Linked DNA regions of Homo sapiens: all the other regions are linked to region 2. Evidence: fine-mapped expression QTL. A gene starts in region 2. Each other region holds a variant in brackets. All regions are shown on one strand. Distances are between the middles of the regions.

The links. PIP is the estimated chance that this variant, and not a neighbour inherited with it, causes the effect.
Region 1: its variant is fine-mapped to the expression of ARHGEF10 in whole blood (TOPMed, PIP above 0.99).
Region 3: its variant is fine-mapped to the expression of ARHGEF10 in fibroblasts (GTEx, PIP 0.97).

The regions. Positions count from the first base shown.
Region 1 is chr8:1,851,280-1,858,300 of GRCh38, forward strand. It overlaps ARHGEF10 (Rho guanine nucleotide exchange factor 10), which reads left to right. Exons shown (of 29, transcript NM_014629.4): 3 at 6,681-6,836. Among named protein-coding and RNA genes, the nearest start is that of ARHGEF10, 31 kb to the left of the region's middle. The variant C/CT (reference allele first, on the strand shown) is at 3,282.
Region 2 is chr8:1,819,679-1,826,699 of GRCh38, forward strand. ARHGEF10 (Rho guanine nucleotide exchange factor 10) reads left to right here and starts at 4,248. Exons shown (of 29, transcript NM_014629.4): 1 at 4,248-4,435.
Region 3 is chr8:1,901,529-1,908,549 of GRCh38, forward strand. It overlaps ARHGEF10 (Rho guanine nucleotide exchange factor 10), which reads left to right. Exons shown (of 29, transcript NM_014629.4): 16 at 1,753-1,923; 17 at 4,043-4,188. Among named protein-coding and RNA genes, the nearest start is that of KBTBD11-OT1, 66 kb to the right of the region's middle. RefSeq lists an enhancer at 4,748-5,947 and a silencer at 6,956-7,021. The variant T/TA (reference allele first, on the strand shown) is at 3,301.

The DNA.
Region 1 (7,021 bases), 32 kb after region 2:
ACGTACCTCAGTGTTGGCTCCTCACACAGAAGGCACAGCACCAGGAGCGAGGCCTCACGCACACCGTGGGCTTTAGTTAGTGACATACCTCATTGTTGGCTCCTCACACAGAAGGCACAGCACCAGGAGCGAGGCCTAACACACACCGTGGGCTTTAGTTAGTGACGTACCTCAGTGTTGGCTTCTCAGTTGCAACAAGTGTTCCACTCTGGCAAAGGATGGGGGATAGTGTTGGGGGAGGCTCTCTTTGGGGGTGGGGAGTATATGAGAACTCTCTGTACCTTCCTCTCAATTTTCCTGTGAACCTAAAACTGCTCTAAAAAGTTGTATCTCTTAAAAGCAACCAAACTGGGGTGGGCACGTTGGCTCTTGCCTGTAATCCCAGCACTTTGGGAGGCCGAGGCAGGAGGATCACTTGAGTTCAGGAGTTTGAGACCAGCCTGGGCAACATAGTGCCACCTCGTCTCTATTAAAAATAATAAAACTTAGCCAGGCGTGGTGGCTCATGCCTGTAGTCCTGGCTGCTTGGGAGGCTGAGGTGGGAGGATTGCTTGAGCCCAGGAGGTCAAGGCTGCAGTAAGCTGCGATCGCAATACTGCACTCCAGCGCGGGCAACAGAGCATGACTCTGTCTCAAAAAAAAAAAAAATTAATAACCAAATGGAAATGAATCTCTGCTGCAGACCATATGAAGACAGACACAAGCAGAGGGGCCCTGTGGGTGTGGGGACGGCTCTCAGGCTCAGACAGGCCGTTAGCCGTCTTGATAGCTCGAGATTCAGGCCTGCGAGGTCCACTAGGCTCAGGTGTCTACAAAACTTAGAATTGATAAGAATTAAATAACAACAACAACTGAGGCTCTTGGTCACACTGGCCACCCCAAGTGCAATAGCCATGTGTGACTTGAGCTGTCCTGCGGGCCCTCTAGAACCTCTCCATCATCCTGGAGAGGACCGGGGAGCAGCACCGTTTCTGTCCTGAGGGCCCTCTAGAACCTCTCCATCATCCTGGAGAGGACCGGGGAGCAGCACCGTTTCTGTCCTGAGGGCCCTCTAGAACCTCTCCATCATCCTGGAGAGGACCGGGGAGCAGCACCGTTTCTGTCCTGAGGGCCCTCTAGAACCTCTCCATCATCCTGGAGAGGACCGGGGAGCAGCACCGTTTCTGTCCTGAGGGCCCTCTAGAACCTCTCCATCATCCTGGAGAGGACCGGGGAGCAGCACCGTTTCTGTCCTGAGGGCCCTCTAGAACCTCTCCATCATCCTGGAGAGAACCCGGGAGCAGCACCTTTTCTAGCAGCAGCATTTCGAAGATTGGATTGTCAGGTAACTTCCTCGCCCTTTTTTGCATATAGGCATAACTTAAAATGGGCATGGTCATATTATGTCATAATGATTGGAAACGTAATGTTTCTTAAAGTTTTCTATTTCATAACTTGTTTTAGAAATGTGTGCCTTAATTGATGAGCCAATTACCTGCATACTCACAAGTGTAAAAAGTCAGGTTGGTAAGAAGTCAGTGCCACCAAGGCAGCCCCAATGGCCCTGCTGTGACGGAAACAGTCTGAATCCTGAGGCTTAAATGGCTGCTGCTGTCGGTCAGCATTAGGGGTGTCGTGTCAAGCTGCCGGTGACCCACAAGGGCTGGCCCCTGAATGCAGCAGAGCCTGCAGTTTTCCTGGGAAGTGCAGCTGTGGCCAGAGGGCAGCCTGTCCTGGGCAGGCCAGAGGAGAGGGGCAGGGGAAGAATGGTCCCCAGGTTAGATTTGGGCCGGGCGCTGGCGGGTGGTTAGATTTGGGCCGGGCACTGGCGGGTGGTTAGATTTGGGCTGGATGCCTGTGGGTCGGCACGGGCTGCACTGCCGTCTGTGTTTCCTCCTCCGTGTCATGGCCTTCATGGGTGACTCTCAGAACCTGCCGTCCTGAGTGGGCAGGAGGGGCACAGAGCCTCTCCCTAGGTGCAGCCCTGCCCAGGCCGCCCTTCCCTGCTTCCCTGCCAGCTGCCTACCCAGAGCGCCGGGCCCTTCCCGCCCACCTCCTGGGCTCCACAGGGACCAACGGGCGGAGAACACTGGGCCATGGTGTGTCCAGCGAATGACGGCTACACTGCAGATTCCCCAACAGCTTTTTGAAAGATCCATGTCGTCTCAAACTACAACACGTTGTATCTCCTGAGATGCTTTCAGCAGCCCTTGAGCATCTTTTCTAGTTTGCAAATTGTAGTTTTTCTCATCAGTGTTCTCCTTCAGCTGAATGGCTGGGTTCTGAAGCTGGGGTTTTGAGAAGCGGGAATTCCTTCTGTGGCTGCAGCAGGAGTGTTGTGGGAACCGACCCAGCCCAGCTTGCCTGGCTCCCGCCAGGGCCCTGAGGATGGCACAGGACCTTTTGTGTTGGAAAGGGCTTGGCCGAGCTTGCGGGGGAGCCTCCTGGGTTGCAGGCCGGAAGTCCCAGGTCAGGGTGCTGGCAGGCTGTGTGTGCTCCCCGGGAATGTAGGTCACAGCCTTCCTTGCCTCTTCCAGCGCCCGCCGGCTGTGGGCACTCCCGGGAGTTCCTGCAGCTGCACTGCCAGGTGGCTCCTCGTCCCTGTGCTGGCCTCTGCTGTCATGAGGACACTGCCACACTGGGTTAGCCGAGCCTGCTCTAGCACAGCCTCCTGTAAACCAATTGCACCTGCAGTCACCTGTTTGCAGACGAGCTCACCAGCAGACTGGGGGTGAGGATTTCAGCACAGGGATTTAGGGGACACAATTGAACCTGTCAGGGCTGGTGTCAGAACTAAACTTAGGACCCCAAATGCTGGGATTTTTAAAGGCATTCTGCATTGCACTTCACTAAGGGACCTGGGGAGCTCGGGTGGGGTCTGTGATGCCCAGGATCCCCCAGGGCCCAGGGCAGTGTCTGGGATGGACATGCTCAGCACACACCACCTTGAACGCCCGGCCCCATGCTCACCTCAGAGGGCGGCGCAGCCTCACCATCGATGGAGGCCCCCTTGGAGGTGGGGGTCAGAGGAGCAGCCCAGCTCCAGGCGGCCTCGCCCTCTGTCCTGGGCGCCCGCCGTGGGCACAGCTGTGGGCACCCATGCAGGCAGGGGTGCAGCCTCAGGTGGTTACATTGAGCACAACTTCTTTGAGTTCTTGTAGAAAGGCTATTTTTTTCTTACTGGAACTGAATTCTGAGAGGAATTTGTAACACACATCATTCTGCAGAGTCTATATAACTTGAAAGTCTTTCCCTGCAGTGTTTGCAGAGGATGGAGGGCAGCTCCGCCAGTGTCTGCCAGT[C/CT]TTTCAATGACAGCAGAGAGCTCTTGAATTCCAAGCCCCAAGCCCCTTCCAAGCCCCTCCAAGTCTAAACTAACAAGATTTAAACTTTTGGAGGAATTTCTTGATTGCTTTGATTTCCCTTGTATAGTAGAATTCTACTTAAATTTTACTAGGGGAAAAAGTGAGTTATTTTGGCAAAAAACAGTTTGAAGCTTGCTCATCTGCTCGTCATTCTCTCATTCATTCGCTCACATGATGTGCGTGTCACACATTGCCGCCAACCAGGTTTCCCACTGCACCTTGCTGGGCGGTGAGCAGAGGTGCCGGCTCCGAGAACGCATGCGGTTCTTCTCAGGGTCATACCTGTACCTGGCACACGGGACATGCACTGTCCCAGGTAATCCCACCGGTCTCCCGGGGCTGGTGTCACAGCCCAGGAGGTGGCGTATGGGGAGGGAGTGGAGGGGCCTCGGTGTCTCCTCAGGGCTGTTTCCTGCACACACGGGCTCCTGTTCACGGCCTTCCTTCCTGAAGACTTTAAAGAGAATTCCTTCTTCCTGTATGGGGTACAGTGTGGGTTCCGGTCCCAACAGCTCATGTTTCTCCCCTTGCAGATATTTGAGAGCCTATTTTGTACCAGACATTGTCAAGCTTTTTTAAAAAACAATATTTATAGACTCATGTCTAGGTGTATTTTATCTAATTGTTTGAGTTCAGCGGTAGTAAACTATAATTTCCAAAAAAGAGAGTTGACAATATAAAAATCTAGTGTGATTGTGTCACCGTCTGGATGAATCTGAACATGTGCCTGGCAGTGACTTTTTTTGGGGTGGTCAGAACAGAAACTTTTTTTGGGGTGGGGGACAAGGTGTTGCTCTGTCCCCCAGGCTGCAGTGCGGTGGCGCAATCTCAGCTCACTGCAACTTCCGCTTACTGGGTTCAGGTGATCCTCCCACCTCAGCCTTCGGAGTAGGTGGGACCACAGGTCCACGCCTTCACCCCAGGCTAATTTTTGTACCTTTTTTTTTTTTTAAGAGACGGGGTTTCACTATGTTGTCCAGGCTGGTCTCAAATTCCTGGGCTCAAGCAATTAGTCCTCCTTGGCCTTTGAAAGTGCTGGGATTACACGTGTGAGCCCCTGCGCCCAGCAATACATAAACATTTTCACTGATCATTTTCGTCACGGCATTTAGTCGGCATTGTTTCCGCAGCACGTTTATTTGGCAAACATGATTTTTTCTCCCCAAACGTGAATTCTGTGGAAATGACAGTTGCATTTGGAAAATATTCCAGAAAACAGTTTTTTTGTTTGTTTAACTTTTTACTTTAAAAGGTATTCACCAGTTCATTTCCATAAACTGACTACTTAATGATATGGCAAAAAAAAAAACCCCTTCTGAAATAGGTTTTGTTTACGGTCGCTTGGGAGACAGTGAGGACTGGTTTGAAAGTACATAGTTAACAAGGCTCAAACTCTGGAAATTAGCGGTTCTGTCCATTCCAGCTCTCCCCCTGCTTCGATTGTTTCATTTGATTAGGCTTAAATTCAAAACTTTGAATTTAGAGAAGTCTTTGACCCTCTAGGAAGTGGGTGAGGCTTTGGTATCTGGGCAGAGCAGAGTTCACCATCCAGAAGGACAGCAACACACACTCCTATCAGACGTATGTTTTAAAAATAACACATTTCTGAATCCTTTTTCTTGATTCAATTTTAGTATTTGTCATTCTCATACTTGTAAAACTCGTGAGTGTTGGTGGAAGCAGTTCCAGAAAGCTCGTGGGGTCCCCAGGTGTCATGGTCAGCTGGGGGTCTCATCCCCACCGTCCTTGCAGTGGTAGCTGGATCCAGTTCACGCTGTCGTGGGCCTGGGCCCCTCTGTGTATTTGTGGTGACCTAAAAATCTGTTTCCTTCAAAAGGCACTCCTAGAATGTATGACTAGTTTAGGAGATTCAAAGGAAAATGAAACACCTCAAATTTAAAGGTTGTTTTTAGACCGCTAGAGTTCCCCGGGAGGCGACTTCCCCAGGAGGCTCGGCAGAGAGCGCCTGGAGACTGCGTGGAGTGTAAGTGGGTTGTGTGTCTGTGGGTTGCTCCCTAGCAGGGCTCCCCCTCAGCCCCCTCCGGAGCTGCCTGCAGCCGAGCTGGGCCGTCCTGCTTGGGTGCATCTCCCTGGCCCACGGGGGATTGTCTGTGTTGGAGGGGCTTGGTTTGGGCTGACCCAGGCTCTGTCCCGAGGTGCCACCTGCTTCTGTGGATTGCCGGGCATGGCAGCAGGAGGTTTCCTCAGGAACGTGTGCTGGGAAGAAATCCCAGCCCTTGGGAAAGGCTGGCAGGGGCTGGGTTCCTCTCGCTCCTGGGTGTGCCGGGTGGTGTTGTCCCAGCACATGGGTCTCCTCTGGAAAAAGGAGAAGCACCTGTCTGCTCTGATGGTGGCACACAGTCCTAGCACGCCGTCTCTGCAAATGATGCACACGGCAGGCTGCGCCATCAGCCGTAACCCCGGTCCAAGGAGACCTGTGACTCGCCTCCTGCAAAATGTTTCTTATCAAGCACTTACTTGGAACAGTTATTAACCATGCTCTTTAATAATTATGGAGGTTTGTATTTTAAGCTATATATCGGTGTTCATATTTGACACTGATTTTCTAACCATCAGAGATATTTAATTAAAATTGTAAATAAGAGAGGCAAAATGAAAATAAAAGGAGAAGAATTCTAGGGAGAGATGCAAGGTGTCAGAAGTTATTTCTAAAAGTAAAGTGGATGATACTGAATTCTCTTCCAGACCATCAGCCCAGCCGGGTGATGTTCATCTGCTGGGTGCACAGATTTAAAATGTGAAAAGCTCTTTTTTCCCCTTACTTTCTCTTGTTTTCTTTTCTTTTTTTTTTTTTTTGAGACAGAGTTTTGCCCTGTCACCCAGGCTGGAGTGCAATGGTGCAATCTCGGTTCACTGCAACCTCCGCCTCTCGGGTTCAAGCCATTCTCCTGCCCCACCTTCCTGAGAAGCTGGGATTACAGGTGCCCGCCAACACGCCTGGCTAATTTTTTTATTTTTAGTAGAGATGGGGTTTCACCATGTTGGCCAGGCTGGTCTCAAGCTTCTTACCTTGTGATCTGCCCACCTTGGCCTCCCAAAGTGCTGGGATTACAGATGTGAGCTACCACCCCCAGCCTCTTGTTTCTTCTCTGTGAGTTGTAGATCCTATTAAAAGAAAATAAAAACCAGTGACTCAGAATTCTAATGATACTTATTTTGCCCCTTAAAAAGGTTAACTACAAGCGCAGTACAGCACAGAGGAACTTAGTCAGTGTCTCTGGCTAACATAGATCGATCGATCTATCTATCTATCTATCTATCTATCTATCTATCTATCTATCTATCTCTCCTTGATGTGGTTTTGGTTTTTCTTTTTAGAAAATGAAATGAAATATGATACCAATAATAATGAAGAGGAAGAGGGAGAACAGTTCGATTTTGACAGTGGAGATGAAATCCCAGAAGCGGACAGACAGGCCCCATCCGCCCCTGAGACAGGAGGTGCTGGAGCCAGTGAAGCCCCTGCACCCACAGGTGAGTTTCCAGGAGGGTCCCCAGGTGAGTCCCCAGGTGGGTCCCCAGGTGAGTCCCCAGGTGGGTCCCCATGTGAGTCACCAGGTGAGTTCCCAGGTGAGTCCCCAGGTGAGTCCCCAGGTGGGTCCCCAGGTGAGTCCCCTGGGGGGTTCCCAGGTGAGTCCGCAGATCACCGGCATCAGGGT
Region 2 (7,021 bases):
GATGCATTGAGGCCACTGTATATATCCCATGAAGTAGCTTACTCTTGTGTTCGGCTTGATTCTATTTACAAAGTGAACACACCCATGTGTCTGCAAATCAAATCAAGATGTAGTCACCGTTTTCATCACTCCCCAGAATTCCTTTGTCTTTTCTGAGACAATACCCCCAAAAATAACCACTGTTCTGATTCCTATTATTATAGGTTGGTTTGGCACATTCTTGAATTTCATAAAAATTGAATCATACTATATGTGCCCTTTTGTCTATGTTTTTCATGTTTTCAAGATTCATTGTTATTGAACATATCAGTTTCTTCCTTTTTATTACTGTATTATTAGTATTCTATTATTCTATGAAGATACAATACTTTATGAGTTCACCTGTTGATGGAATTTGGGTTGTTTCCAGTTGCGAAGTATTTGAACTGTTTTGAAGAAAGAATTCTTGTAAAAATCATTTTTTTTTTTTGAGACAGGGTCTTGCTCTGTCCACCCAGGCTAGAGTGCAGTGGTGGTGAACATGACTCATTACAGCCTTGACCTCCCAGCCTCAAGCGATCCTCCCACTTCAGCTTCCTAAGTAGCTGGGACTGGAGGTGGAGACTATCATGCTAGACTCCTGGGCTCAAGCAATCCTCCACCTTGGCCTCCTAAAGTGCTGGGGTTACAGGTGGGAGTCACCATGTCTGGCTGTAAAAGTCTTTTAAGGGACTTATGTTTTCACTTGCCTTGGGCAAACCTAAAAGTGGGATTGCTGAGAAATGGGCAAACAATTAATCAGAGTGGTTGCGCCATTTGCACTCTCATCGCCTTGTATAGTGGTTCCAGGGGCTCCACATTTTTACCCTTGCCATGTCGGTCTGCAGTTTCAGCCGTGCTTGGATGACGGTGGTGGCATCTCATTGTGAGTTTACTTTGGGTAACACTGAGCACTATTTCCTGTTCTTGTTGGCTATCAGTACATCTTTGGTGAAGTATTTACGTCTTTTGTTTATTTTTAAATAGACTTGTTATTGTTATTTACAGGCTTGTTATTGTTATATTGTTTTGTCCCTTTTGAAATAGACTTGTCTTGTTATTGTTCATTTGCAGGAGTTCTCTATTTACCAGGACTATGGTTTGAACGCGTTTTCCCCAAAGTTTATGTGTTGGAAACTTGACCCCCAATGCAGCAGTGTTGGAAGGTGCCTACTAGGTGGTGTCTGGGTCATGGGGGTATGACCCTCATGGATGGATAAATGCCATGACTGAGGCGGTGGGCTCCTTATAAAAGAATGAGTTTGGGTGAAACCTCGTCTCTACTAAAAATACAAAAATTAGCTGGGTGTGGTGGCACATACCTGTAATCCCAGCTACTCGGGAGGCTGAGGCAGAATAGCTTGAACCAGGGAGTCGGAGGTTGCAGTGAGCAGAGATCGCACCACTGCACTCCAGCCTGATGACAGAGCAAGACTCCGTCTCAAAAAAAAAAAAAAAAAAGATAAGTTTGGCCCATTTTGCATCCTCCCTCCCCACCTCCGCCTCCCACCTTCCGTCATGGGATGATGCAGCCCGAAGGTTCTTGCCAGATGTGGCTCCTTGATCTTGAACTTCCCAGCCTCCAGAACTGTGAGAAATAAATTTCTTTTCATTGTAAATCACCCATTCCCAGGTATTCTGTTACAGCAGCACAACGTGGATTAAGACAAGCCATTTGTGGGATATATGCATTGCCCCTGTGTTCTCCCAGTCTGTGGCTTGCCTTTTCATTTTCTTAATGATGTCATGAGATGAGTAGAAATATTAAATTTTGATAAGCCATTTAATCATTTTTAAATGGTCGGTCCATTTTCTGTCTTACCTGAAGATCCGTAAGATCTTTTCTTATATTTTATCCTAGCAACTTTATAATTTTTACACTTAAGTCTATGATCCATCTGAAATTCCTAAATTCTATTTTAATCCTAATAGTTTATTTGTAGATAATTTTGTTTTTTAACATATATAATCATATTGACTGTAAATAATCAGTTTTTCCTCCCTCAATCCTTACACTTTTTGTTTTTATGACCTACAACACTTGTTAGATGCTGCAGGACAATGCTGAATAGACTACGGAGAGTCAAAGATTTTCATACACCCTTATCAGTACAAGTAGATAAAAAGTACAAGTAGATAAAAAGTACAAGTAGATAAAAAAATCAGTAACAAATATGACCTAATTGACATCTGTAGAACTTTATGTCAGTGAAAGCATGTTCTCAGCAAGTGCTCATAGAACATTTACCAAAATAGACAATGTTGGGCCATGAAGCAAGTGTTTGAAAATCTTAAACGACAAAAATAAAACAGCTGATGTTTTAAGGCCCGGTGGAATTAAACTTTAGTTACAATAAAAAGAAAACCAGAAAGTCCCCATATATTTGAAAGGTGAACCTAACTTTTCTAAATATCCCATGGGTCAAAGAGGGAATCACAATGGAAAATCCCAACTCTTCCATATCCGGGCTTACGAAAATAGGGATGTATCTGTGAGGAACGCCTGAATAAAGCAGACAGACAGGATCTATTGGAGCTCCAAATCAGGGGATTTTCTGCCCAACCTGCCTGGAAGGCATTGCTCTGTGGCCCTACTCAGTGGTGTCCCTGGCGGCCCTGAGTTTAGGGGCTCAATTTCATCCATTGAGAAAATGAGTTGTTTATTCCATACACAGGACTATTTCCTCTTATCTCTACCTTTTTAGAAAACACTACAAGTATCAGGATTTTCTCATCGTATTTAGGTAAACAAGAACTAATTTAGTTGACCTTCTTACTTCTGTTGATCAAGACCATTGATCTGACCATTGATCTGTGCAGAAGATCTCTGAATAAGGTACCCAGAGAACCCTAGGAATAGAAACCTGAAATAAGTTTTCTAATCTTAAGGTCGCTGAGAGCAAATACCTTTTTCAATTGATTCATAAAAACAACTCAGTCTGATTTCATAAAATTAGCAAGTGTGAATAATAAACATTGAAAAAATATCACCTTACCTACGATTATTTTTTCCAGCCATTGTAGTCTTTCTATGTTGGCTATGATTTTTACATAGTCCAAAATTTTCAGGGAAATAACTTATTCCAGAGCACACAAGCCTTAAGGGCAGTTAATGTTTAGATTAATTTCGTGATACTTAGCATCCCAAATAGCTGTTTGTATTTCTTCTATAAAACAAGTGAAAGGGGCTAGAAATCTCTAAGAAGTCTGACAGTTCTAAAACACTGACTTAAAATTACTTCTATGATTCGGAGATTTGGGTAGGAGAAGGCATAGAAATAAATCTAGCATCTGCGAACACACTTGTTAAATGTGCTGACCAGGTAAAAGATAACATCCTTTAGTTATTTTGGTTAAAAATGTCTTTGTTTCTCGTTTTTTTTTTTCTTTAATAGTAATTATAACGATAATCTGTTTCCTTTTTAAAAGTATAAGACAAATAAATGCTCAAAGTAAACAATTCCAATAACTCAGAAGGGGCCATTCCCTGGAAAGGTCCCGGGAAAAACGAGCGCTTCCTGGCAAGAAGCAAGCTTCAAAAACTGCCTCGGAAACGTGGCTGAAGTCATCGCATTTCCAAACGCCCAAGCCTTGGCTGGTCCAGGGCAGCTGGCGCGGAAGACCCGGAACGCCCTGTGGGCAGGGCCAGCTGCGGACGGAGGGACGGGGGCTCAAGGGCGGGTCGGGTGGGGTCCCGACGCCCCCTCCTCGGCTGGGCGCACCCCGGGTGTCCGCAGGGAGGGGCGATGTTCTGGGGGGGGGAGCGTCTGCCCGACGCCCCCTCCCTCAGGTGAGCTCAGCCCGTGGGGGTCCGCAGAAAGGGCGGTGCTCTGGGAGAGGGTTAGGGTCTGCCCGGCGCACCCTCCCCAAGGGGCGCAGCTCTGAGCCGGGAGCAGGCTCTGCGGGGAGGATCCAGATGTTGGGGGCGGGGAGGGCACTCGGTCTGCCCAGCGACCCCTCCCGAAGTGAGCGCGGCCCGGGGTCCGCGGGGCAGGAGATGATCCGGGGGCGGGAGCCTCTGCCGCGCGCCCCCTCCCACGCGTGCGCAGCCTGGGCCGGGCGTTGGGCAGCGGGAGGGGGCGCGGGCGGCCACGTGGCCTCGAAGGAATGCGCGGGCGCGAGGGCAGGGCGCTGCCGAGAAACCGGCAGGCTCTGCGGCCAATGGGCGCCCGGAACGGTCTGGGCCCGCCAATGACAGCATGGTGGGTGGAGCAGGCCGTCCGGGCGGGAGGGGCTGGGCGCATCCCTGTAGCCGGCGGGCGCGCGATCCGGGACGGACGGGGTCGCGGGGGACGCGGGGGACGCGGGGGACGGCGGGGAACGGCGGGGGACGGCGGGGAACAGCGGGGGACGGCGGGGAACAGCGGGGGACGGCGGGGAACAGCAGGGGACTGCGGGTCGCGTCCTGGCCGCCGAGGTGAGTGCGGGCCCCGCGGACCGTGGGTCCCCTCGCGGGCTTCTGGTTTCCTTTGAGAGTTGCACTTCTGCCCGGCTCCCCCGAAATCGCTGGGTCCCACCCGGAGGTGGCTGCGCCCCCGACCCCCTGCGCAGATGTTTCAGGGAAGGGGCTGAGACCCCCTCCCCCCGAGCAGCTCCCCCTTCCGCGGCGCCCCCGGCCCCTCAGGATAACGGCGCGGGCCTGGGCGGGGGGAGCAGGGACTGGCAGCAGGGACCCCTGGCCCCAGGGGCAGGAGCGAACTCCGATCGGCGGAAGGAGCCCGAGGGGCGAGCTGGCTTCGCCTGGGGGGTCGTGCAGTAACTTAGATTTTCCGGTAAAGGAGAAGAATGCGGTCCGCCTCAGGATGCAGAGAAGGACCGGTGTAAGGAAAGCCGGCGTCTTTCCCCCGCACCCTACCTGTCCCCCTACCCCACCAGTTCCCCGCACCCCGTGTACCCCGCCTGTCCCTCAGCACCCCCTGTTCACTCTGCACTCCACCAGTTCCCCGCACCCCAGCTGTCCCCCCGCACCCCACCTGTTTACCCTGCACCCCAGCTGTCCCCCGCGCCGCAGCTGTCCCCCCCACACCCCACCTATTCCCCCGCACCCCGCCTGTCCCCCCGCACCCTACCTGTTTATTCTGCACCCCACCTGTCCCCTCGCACCCCACCTGTTCCCCCTGCACCCCACCTGTCTTCCCCACACCCCACCTGTTTACTCTGCACCCCAGCTGTCCCCCCACACCCCACCAGTTCCCCGCACCCCGTGTACCCCGCCTGTCCCTCAGCACCCCATGTTAACTCTGCACTCCACCAGTTCCCCGCACCCCACCTGTCCCCTCGCACCCCACCTGTCCTCCCCACACCCCACCTGTTTACTCTGCACCCCAGCTGTCCCCCCACACCCCACCTGTTCACCCGCACTCCACCTGTCCCCCCGCACTCCACCTGTCCCCCCGCACCCCACCTGTCCCCCCTGCACCTCACCTGTCCCCCCGCACCCCACCTGTCCCCCCGCACCCCACCTGTCCCCCCGCACTCCACCTGTCCCCCCGCACCCCACCTGTCCCCCCGCACCCCACCTGTCCCCCCGCACCCCACCTGTCCCCCGCACCCCACCTGTTCACCTGCACCCCACCTGTCCCCCCGCACCCCACCTGTCTCCCCGTACCCCACCTGTTCCCCCGCACCCCACCTGTCCTCGCACCCCACCTCTCTCCCTGAACCCCACCTGTCCCCTGCACCTCAACTGTCCTGCACCCCACCTGTCCCCCTGATCCCCACCTGTCCTCTGCACCTCACCTGTCCCCCTACACCTCACCTGTTTACCCTGCACCCCAGCTGTCCCTCGCACCCCAGCTGTCCCCCCCGTACTCCACCTGTTCCCCTGCACCCCACAGCCCGCTGGTGCCCAAGAAGCCAAGGTAGATTCTGAGGAAACTGCCCTAGGTCCACAGACGCCCTGCCCACCTGTCCCAGCCCCACTCCCCTTCCATGGGCCCCTGGGCACTGAAGGTGAGGTCTGAGTACCCCTCCCGACTGTGGCCAGTAGGTCATGTTCCCAGGCAGCAGTAGACGAACTTGCTGTTGTCTGATATTGATTCCAGTCACTAACTTTGGCTGCAAGTAAAAATTCTCATTGACTCAAGATGTAACGGGTTTTAATTCTTTTCTCTGGTTAACCATAACCTGAGTACGGACTGGTCAGTATTCTAGATTCTGTGCAGGAGTGACTTAATGTCCATATGGGTGGAATGCTGCAAGGAGGAACAATTTCACTGTTGCTGATTAATAATATGTTTTGAACACCTGCTTTATAGAAAATAATTTTTATTCGAAAAGAGAGATGATTACTGAGGTTTACACGTCATGTATTTTTAAAAACACACTTTGTCCCTGTCTGTCTCTCACAGCATTTATTTGCTGGCTTTAGCAGCCAACATCGGCAGTTACGGATGCATAACTCTTTATAGACAGATGAGACCTCCAGGATTTCTCAGCAGTAAGAAAAGTCATTTGTATAAGGTGCTATTTGTAATTCATTAGTTGTAGACAGTTGGGGGTGAAGTGAAGTTAAAAGTTATTCAGAATAGCTTTTTATGTTTTTAAAAGTTGATGCTTGACTTCCAGATGTAACCACATTTGTCTTCTGGGTGCTTTGGTGTGCTGCCTTTCCTCTGCAGTTTGTGTGTGCATACGTGTGCGTGTGTCTTTGTGTATGTGTTTGTGTTTGTATGCATGTGTGTGCGTTTGTGTGTGCGTGTGTTTGTGTGTGTGCTGTGTGTGTGTGCGCTTTGTGTGTGTGTGTGTGCGCGTGTGTGAGTTGTAGATAGAGGCGTTGGGTGGTGTGGAGGGTGTGGAGTTACAGACCTGGGTTGAGGTGGGGAAGCTTTTCCCTGGCCCTGTGAGTCCAGACTTCTCACGGGACTTGAGGGTGCTCACTTACGAAGTTGCTAGAAGGCGTTGTATGGGGAAGTGCTGCTTAAAACAAAGATGTTTGGCATAAATTAGAGCAAACTGGAAATGCGCTAATGACGGTTGTATTCTGTAAGCGATGTGAAAACGT
Region 3 (7,021 bases), 82 kb after region 2:
TCTCTCCGTTGTTGTGCAAAGATAAGTAACAATTTCTGATAATAACAGCAGCGAGAAACTTCACTTTTCTCCTTCCCTGAGCCTCCTTGGGTGGCTGCCAGCCCGGCGGATGCCCCCGGCTGTGCTCAGTGGCCCCACGGCATGTCGGACTCCACCCTGTGCTGGCTGCTGTCTCCATCGCACGCCTAGTCCCCGGTGCCACCACCAGTGTGTGGGTTTGGTGCAGAACTAGTGTTAAGATTGTTCTTTTTTGCCTTGATAGAATTCGTTGTGACTCATAGGAAAACAAATGTATAGAATAGTTTATATTCATTACAAACTGGAAACATTTAATCATTTATGCAATGTCCTTTCCAGATTTTAAAAAAAGGTTTAAAAAGATAAGCACGCTGTTGAATTCCATGACTACTAATATTCCTATAAACATGTCAAAGATGGTAGGCAAGACGCAGAACCACATTTTTTTTTCTCACTCTAAGTTCTGGGATATGTGTGCAGAATGTGCAGGTTTGTTCCATAGGTATACCTGTGCCATGGTGGGCTGCTGCACCTAGCAACCCGTCATCTAGGTTTTAAGCCCCGCGTGCATTAGGTATTTGTCTTAATGCTCTCCCTCCCCTCACCCCCCGCCCCGCAACAGGCCCCGGTGTGTGATGCGCCCCTCCCTGTGTCCATGTGATCTCATTGCAGAACCACATTTAATTCTGAGAAAGAGTGTTTCAAGTTCACGTTTGCCCCTTCAGCAAACGTCAGCGTGTCGAATGTGAACGAAAGCTGGGAAACAAAAGGCCCTGCATAAAACCAAGGTGACAGAAATGTCCTTTTGTTACTGCCTGTTAACGTTTATCCTGTGATTGGCAGCAGTGCGTCATTTTTTGCTGGCTGTTGTTGTTGATTTGTGCCACATACCCTCCCTTTGACCTCCTCGTGCTTGTCTGAAACCTTAACTGGGAGAAGAGGTAGCTCAACTCCCTTTTTTTAAAGACTACTTTTTAAGAGAAATTTTAGGGTCGCAGCAAAATTGAGCGGAAAGTACAGAGGTTTCCCATCTACCCCTCCCCTAACATGCATAGCCCCCTCCCCCCACATCTCCACCAGAGTGCATTTGTGACAACCAGGAGCCTGCGTGGCCACGCAGCCACTGCCCAGCGGCCACAGTCGCAGGAGGGCGTACCCTTGTGCTGTGCATTCGGTGGGTTCGGATGAACGTTTAGTGACATGGACCCACCACGATAGTGTCATGCATCTTTGCCGCCCTAAAATCAGGTTCCTTTGTCACTGTGAGAGAGACTCGATCCTGCTGTGTGAGTTGACACCATGGGTGCAGTATTCGGCACCACAGTACTCCTGCACATTGGAAACTGGGAGACTGGTGTTTTGAAGAAAGTAGCTGGACCCATCTGTGCATGGGTTCATCTGTCTGACTCAACTTGAGAAGGAGAATCTATCATCATCGTGAGCATCGTTCCAAGTGCACAGTATTTCTGAGATTGTGATATGTTCATATTTAGCGTGTCCTTTATTGTACAGTGCTATTTTTTCAATTTTGTTTTTGCAAAGGAAGCTGTTCAGATGTTCAGCCAAGTCGTGACTCACTCAGCTCATCATCCCTTCCCAAGAACTGACTTTATTTTTCCCCAGGATGGCAGATGCCACTGCCTCCTTTCCATTGTCAGCTGGCGGGTGACGCGACTGTTGTTGCACTGGGAGTGTCCACGTGGTAACTGCCCACCTCTCCCCTGTTGCTTGTAGGACATGCTGAAGAACACCTCCAAAGGCCACCCCGACAGGCTGCCTCTTCAGATGGCCCTGACAGAGCTCGAAACACTAGCAGAGAAGTTAAATGAAAGAAAGAGAGATGCTGATCAACGCTGTGAAGTGAAGCAAATAGCCAAAGCCATAAACGAAAGATACCTGAACAAGGTTGAGAGAGGTTTTCTTCAACTCTATTCCAAAATTATTTTTGCTTTGTGCTAATAAGCTGTCGTTGTCCAGCAATACTAATCTTTTGGATCGTTTGGAGTAATTCCCTTCGCCCAGAGTTCTTAACCGGGGTGGATGGAGGCCTTCGGGAGAGTCACACCAATGTGGAAATTGTATGTAAAACCTTAACAGCCTGTCTTAACAGCATTTTCTTAGGAAAGAGATTCATACATTCATTAGACCCTCAAATGGATCCAGGACCTCCCAAGGGGTTAAGAGCAACTCCTTTAGCTTACTTTTCCTTTCAAAATAACGGTATTTAATTTCAGATAGTAATAGTTAAAGCTGAAAATATTTACAGGCTAGGCACAGTGGCTCACACCTGTAAGCCCAGCACTTTGGGAGGCTGAGGTGGGAAGATCGCTGGAACCCAGGAGTTCAAGACCAGCCTGGGCATGATAGTGAGAACCCATATCTAAAAAAAGAAAAAAAAAATAGCTGGGCACAGTGGCATGCACCTATATAGTCTGAGCTACGTGGGAGGCTGAGGCCAGAGGATTGCTCGAGCCTGGGAGGTCCAGGCTGTGGTGAGCTGTTATTGAGGTGCTGCACTCTAGCCTGGGTGATGGAGCAAAACCCTGTTTCAAAAAAAAAAAAAATTCACAAACATTTTTTGTCTTCACCTATGCATGGGCTAAGCTGCATTGAGCGTGAAAAGAGATGCAGGACCCAGAAGGCGGCAGTTCATTTGCCAGGCTACATTTCAGCTTGATGCTTACATAACTACTTGTCTGCAGCAGTACTCTGAATTTATGTGGGCTTTCCCGTATTCACTGAAGGCCCTGGCTCACAGGGAGATGGTAATTTGTATGAACTGTGTTAAGTTATTGCATCTAATATTCATTATTGCTAAAAATCATTATTGCTACAAATCATTGTTTTGTCATTAGGAGTAGTTTCTTACGTTACAATGACATTCAGTAATGTAACTGTGCGAACTTTATGGTAATACACTTTAAGCCACATATTTTCCCCATTTCTCCAAGTGGTTTATGTAGGAACGTTTATAAGCAGCAAATTGTATTCAGTTATATTCTTGACATGGTTCATGTTATTTAAAATCATGCTCCCTGTGGCACTTGAACCTCCGAATACACATGGGGCACGGAGCAAGCCCAGAGGCCCAGGAAGAGGGGATGATGCTTCGCACTGAATGTCACCCACATGCCTCATCGTTCCCGTGCACTTGGCAGGGACATTCAGGGAGGCGGGTGTCTCGCTGGTTGCTCAGAGCTGGGCAGCAGCGTAGGTTTAGAATCAAAAGACAGCACAGACCACCGGGGCTGAGGACTCTGTTTTTCTTGTGGGCTGAGTTGT[T/TA]ATAAGTATTGGCCGGGTGCAGTGGCTCACGCCTGTAATCCCAGCTCTTTGGGAGGCCGAGGTGGGTGGATCACGTGAGGTCAGGAGTTCCGGACCAGCCTAACCAACATGACAAAACCCCGTCTCTACTAAAAATACAAAAAGAAACAAATTAGCTGGGTGTGGTGGTGCACACCTGTGGTCCCAGCTACTCGAGAGGCTGAGGCACGAGAATCAATTGAACCCAGGAGGTGGAGGTTGCAGTGAGTTGAGATTGTGCGGCTGCACTCCAGCCTGGGTAACAGAGCGAGGCTTGGTCTCAGAACAAACAAACAAAAAAGGTAGTGTGACTTCTACATCGCATACCATTGTCTTGGTTCATACAAAGCGTCTTTCTGAAGAACTGATGGTTTTGCTTTGGCTCAGTGAAGTAAAATATGGCCTACCTTTAAGAAGTTAAGATAGTCATTTAACTATGCTTAATTAGGTTTACTTGGGGAAAAGTAAAATTACAAAACAATTCCTTGCATTCCTCACCGTTCCTGGTTAATGTAGTGTTTAAATCGCGGGAGGGCCAACTGCGGTGAAAGTCTGTGAGGAAGGAGGCGGATGTTCAGCGCAGTCACGGGGAACATAGGAACGATTTCCGTAAAGCGCTCAGTTTGGAAAAGTCACCCTGAGACTCCATACCAGACTTCTCCTCATCTTTTTCTTTTCCGGGTAAACTGAACTGTGGTCCCTGGGCTGTGTTTTGAATGTCCAGCTTCTCAGCAGTGGAAGCCGATACCTCATTCGATCAGATGATATGATAGAAACAGTTTACAACGACAGAGGAGAGATTGTTAAAACCAAAGAACGCCGAGTCTTCATGTTAAATGATGTGTTAATGTGTGCCACCGTCAGCTCACGGTAAGTGCATAAATTCTCTATAGTAGTCCTACCATCATCACATGTTACCTTTGCCTAAGGGCACATGCATGACTTTGTTAATTCTGTCACTCAGACTGAACTGGTTTTTTGTGCCAAAGCTCTGTCCTGTGACTAAGGGAACCCTTATAATAAGCAAGCTTATTTTTAAATAGATTCAGTGTAAGTCACCAAGTCACTGTTAGTAGAAGTACGTAGAGGTTTATATACTCTTTAAACAGGGCTGATGGCGGAACTAGAAACTCAATTGAATTTCTTCATAACCCTCCTAAATCAAGAGTTCTTTTTCTTATGGTTTAAATTCTCTCTTTACCTGCTTCTCTATAAATATATTTTTGATAAATGTTTAAATATAATAAAGTTGGGTATATTCATATTTATTGTAAACCAAGAAAATGAGTTATTTTCACTTAAAATAGTTTTACATCAGAATCGTTCTCCAATGCATGGAATATTGTAGTGAGATGAGGATATGTGAGAAACTAAAAGGTCTTCAAATACAGGTAGATGATAAGGGAACTGATATAAAGTTAACTATAACACTCCTGGTGCTGTAGAAAATAATGCAAGCGAACGTGGTGCCAATTCGTCATGTCTTGCAAGAGTCAAGTGTTGAATCTTCCAGAGTTTTGAGATCCAGTTGCTAAACATTTGGTAGCTTGAAGTCATCCACACGGGAACATTTACAGCATGGAATTTGCCCAACACGATGTGTTAGGAGCCTGTCCTCCCAGTGAGAGCCAGCTGTTAAACGTTTGCCAGCACACCACTAAACATGCCCTATTTTTCATGCCCGTCGCCCCCATTTTCCAGCGGCCAGATATATCTGCCTGCCCTCCTCACCTTGCCTTAGAGACCCAGGCAGCGAGGGTGTGCAGGTCAGCGCTCAGGAGTCGGACTCCTTAGTGTGAACTGCACATCCACCTTCTCTGAACTCTGAAAATTACCCTCTCTGACTTTGCCTCGGACTCCTCATCCGTGCAATAGGGTTGATCATAAAAATAATGCCAGTGGTACGCTCTTGCGGGTCTCTTCAGGGATCAAGGCGAGAACGTTCATTAAGCTGCTGCAGGGCACCTGGCACACGGCACTGCCTGCGAGGGACAGGTTTTCATTGTTGCTTTTCATCATCGTCAGTGACTTTGTGGCAGCTACAAAATAAGTCCAAAAAATATGTGAGTCTTTAATGACACTCCTTCTTGTAAGAGAAAGAACCCTGTTCATTTGACTCATACCCCATGGCTTGGCCTTCACTGTGGACGCCTGGCGACAGCCGCAGGCCACCTGCCTTCTGTGTGCAGAAGTGAAGCCCACTGCACCCTGCGTTGGAGAGGAGCTGACGGAGTGAGGCCGTGGGAGGTCGCAGCTGGAGAACTCCAGGTGTGGGCTGCTCTAGAGGATGCTTAGAATTGCGAGGATGCAGAGTAAGGTGTCTCCACCCGTTTCCCTGGTGTTATGAGGTGCTTCCCATAGTGTGGAGACTAAAGGTGTTTATCACTTAACAGTATGGCTTCCAAGTTTAACTGTCCCAGAACCCCCCTCTCCATGTAACACCTGGAAAGTTAGTTTTCAGTGAAGTGGCCCCACTGTGGCTGAATCCACCCAGCTCCTCACCTGCAAGTTGGCCCACACGATGTGTCAAGTTGGGGACATTAATGCTTGTTCCACCTGCCCTGGGAGACAAGATCATAGAAGTGAAATGACCTTGTAAACGGCAAAGTCCTAAGCAAATATAATGGTCCTTGTTGAGTCTTTTCCGCATTCATCACTGATGTTTGTCTGACACTGACTGCTGCTCCAGAACCCCTCAGGCTGCTGTTGGGGAGCGCCAGGACACACTTGACTCTTGGGCAGTTTTAAGTACGTTTAAAATTCTCCCGCTGCCAGACGTGGTGTACTTTAAAGATGAATTAAAATGGATACTTTAAAAGTAACTCAGCTGTGCTTACTGCTAGAGGATTCCTTAAAATAACGCCCCTGCCTTTCCCACGATGCCAGGGCTTGAATTTCTTTTTTTGCGAAGTGCAGTGGTGAGTCGCAATTCCTTTCCCATGGACATGTTGTCAGTGTGAGATTTTCAGCGACAGTGCCCGAAGGTGATGAGATGAGAATGCATTTTGTTTCAAATAGCTCCCAAGGACCCTTTGGTCGGCCCTGTGAACATTAAGATTCTAAACCTCCTCTGTAGGGATGGAGATTTTTACATTCAAAGAGGAGGAATCGGAATTTTGGTAAGAACTCATGGGCATTTCTGTTTTTCTAAATTGGAGGCACAGTCTAATTCACGGAACACAACCCATCTTTCCTCTTACTGTGTCTGAATTGTTCTTCCTCCTTTCCCTTCCTGTATGGACTGGATGTCCTCATGGAGGGCAGAGTGCTCTGGTGTAAGAAGGAACTGGAGAGCTTGGGTGCAGACGGGCTCCCAGCCAGTCAGGTGCTCAGTCCAATGCATAGCACCCGGCATTTTGGTTATTTCTACCCACACTTTGATTTTTTTTTTTTTTTTTTTTTGAGAAAGAGTCTCGCTCTGTCACCCAGGCTGGAGTGCTGTGGCTCGATCTCAGCTCGCTGCAAGCTCTGCCTCCCGGGTTCACGCCATTCTCCTGCCTCAGCCTCCCTAGTAGCTGGGACTACAGGCACCCACCACCACACCCAGCTAATTTTTTAAATATTTTTAGTAGAGATGGGGTGTCACTGTGTTAGCCAGGATGGTCTCAATCTCCTGACCTTGTGATCTGCCTGCCTTGGCCTCCCAAAGTGCTGGGATTACAGGCGTGAGCCACCGCGCCCGGCCCACACTTTGATTTTTAAC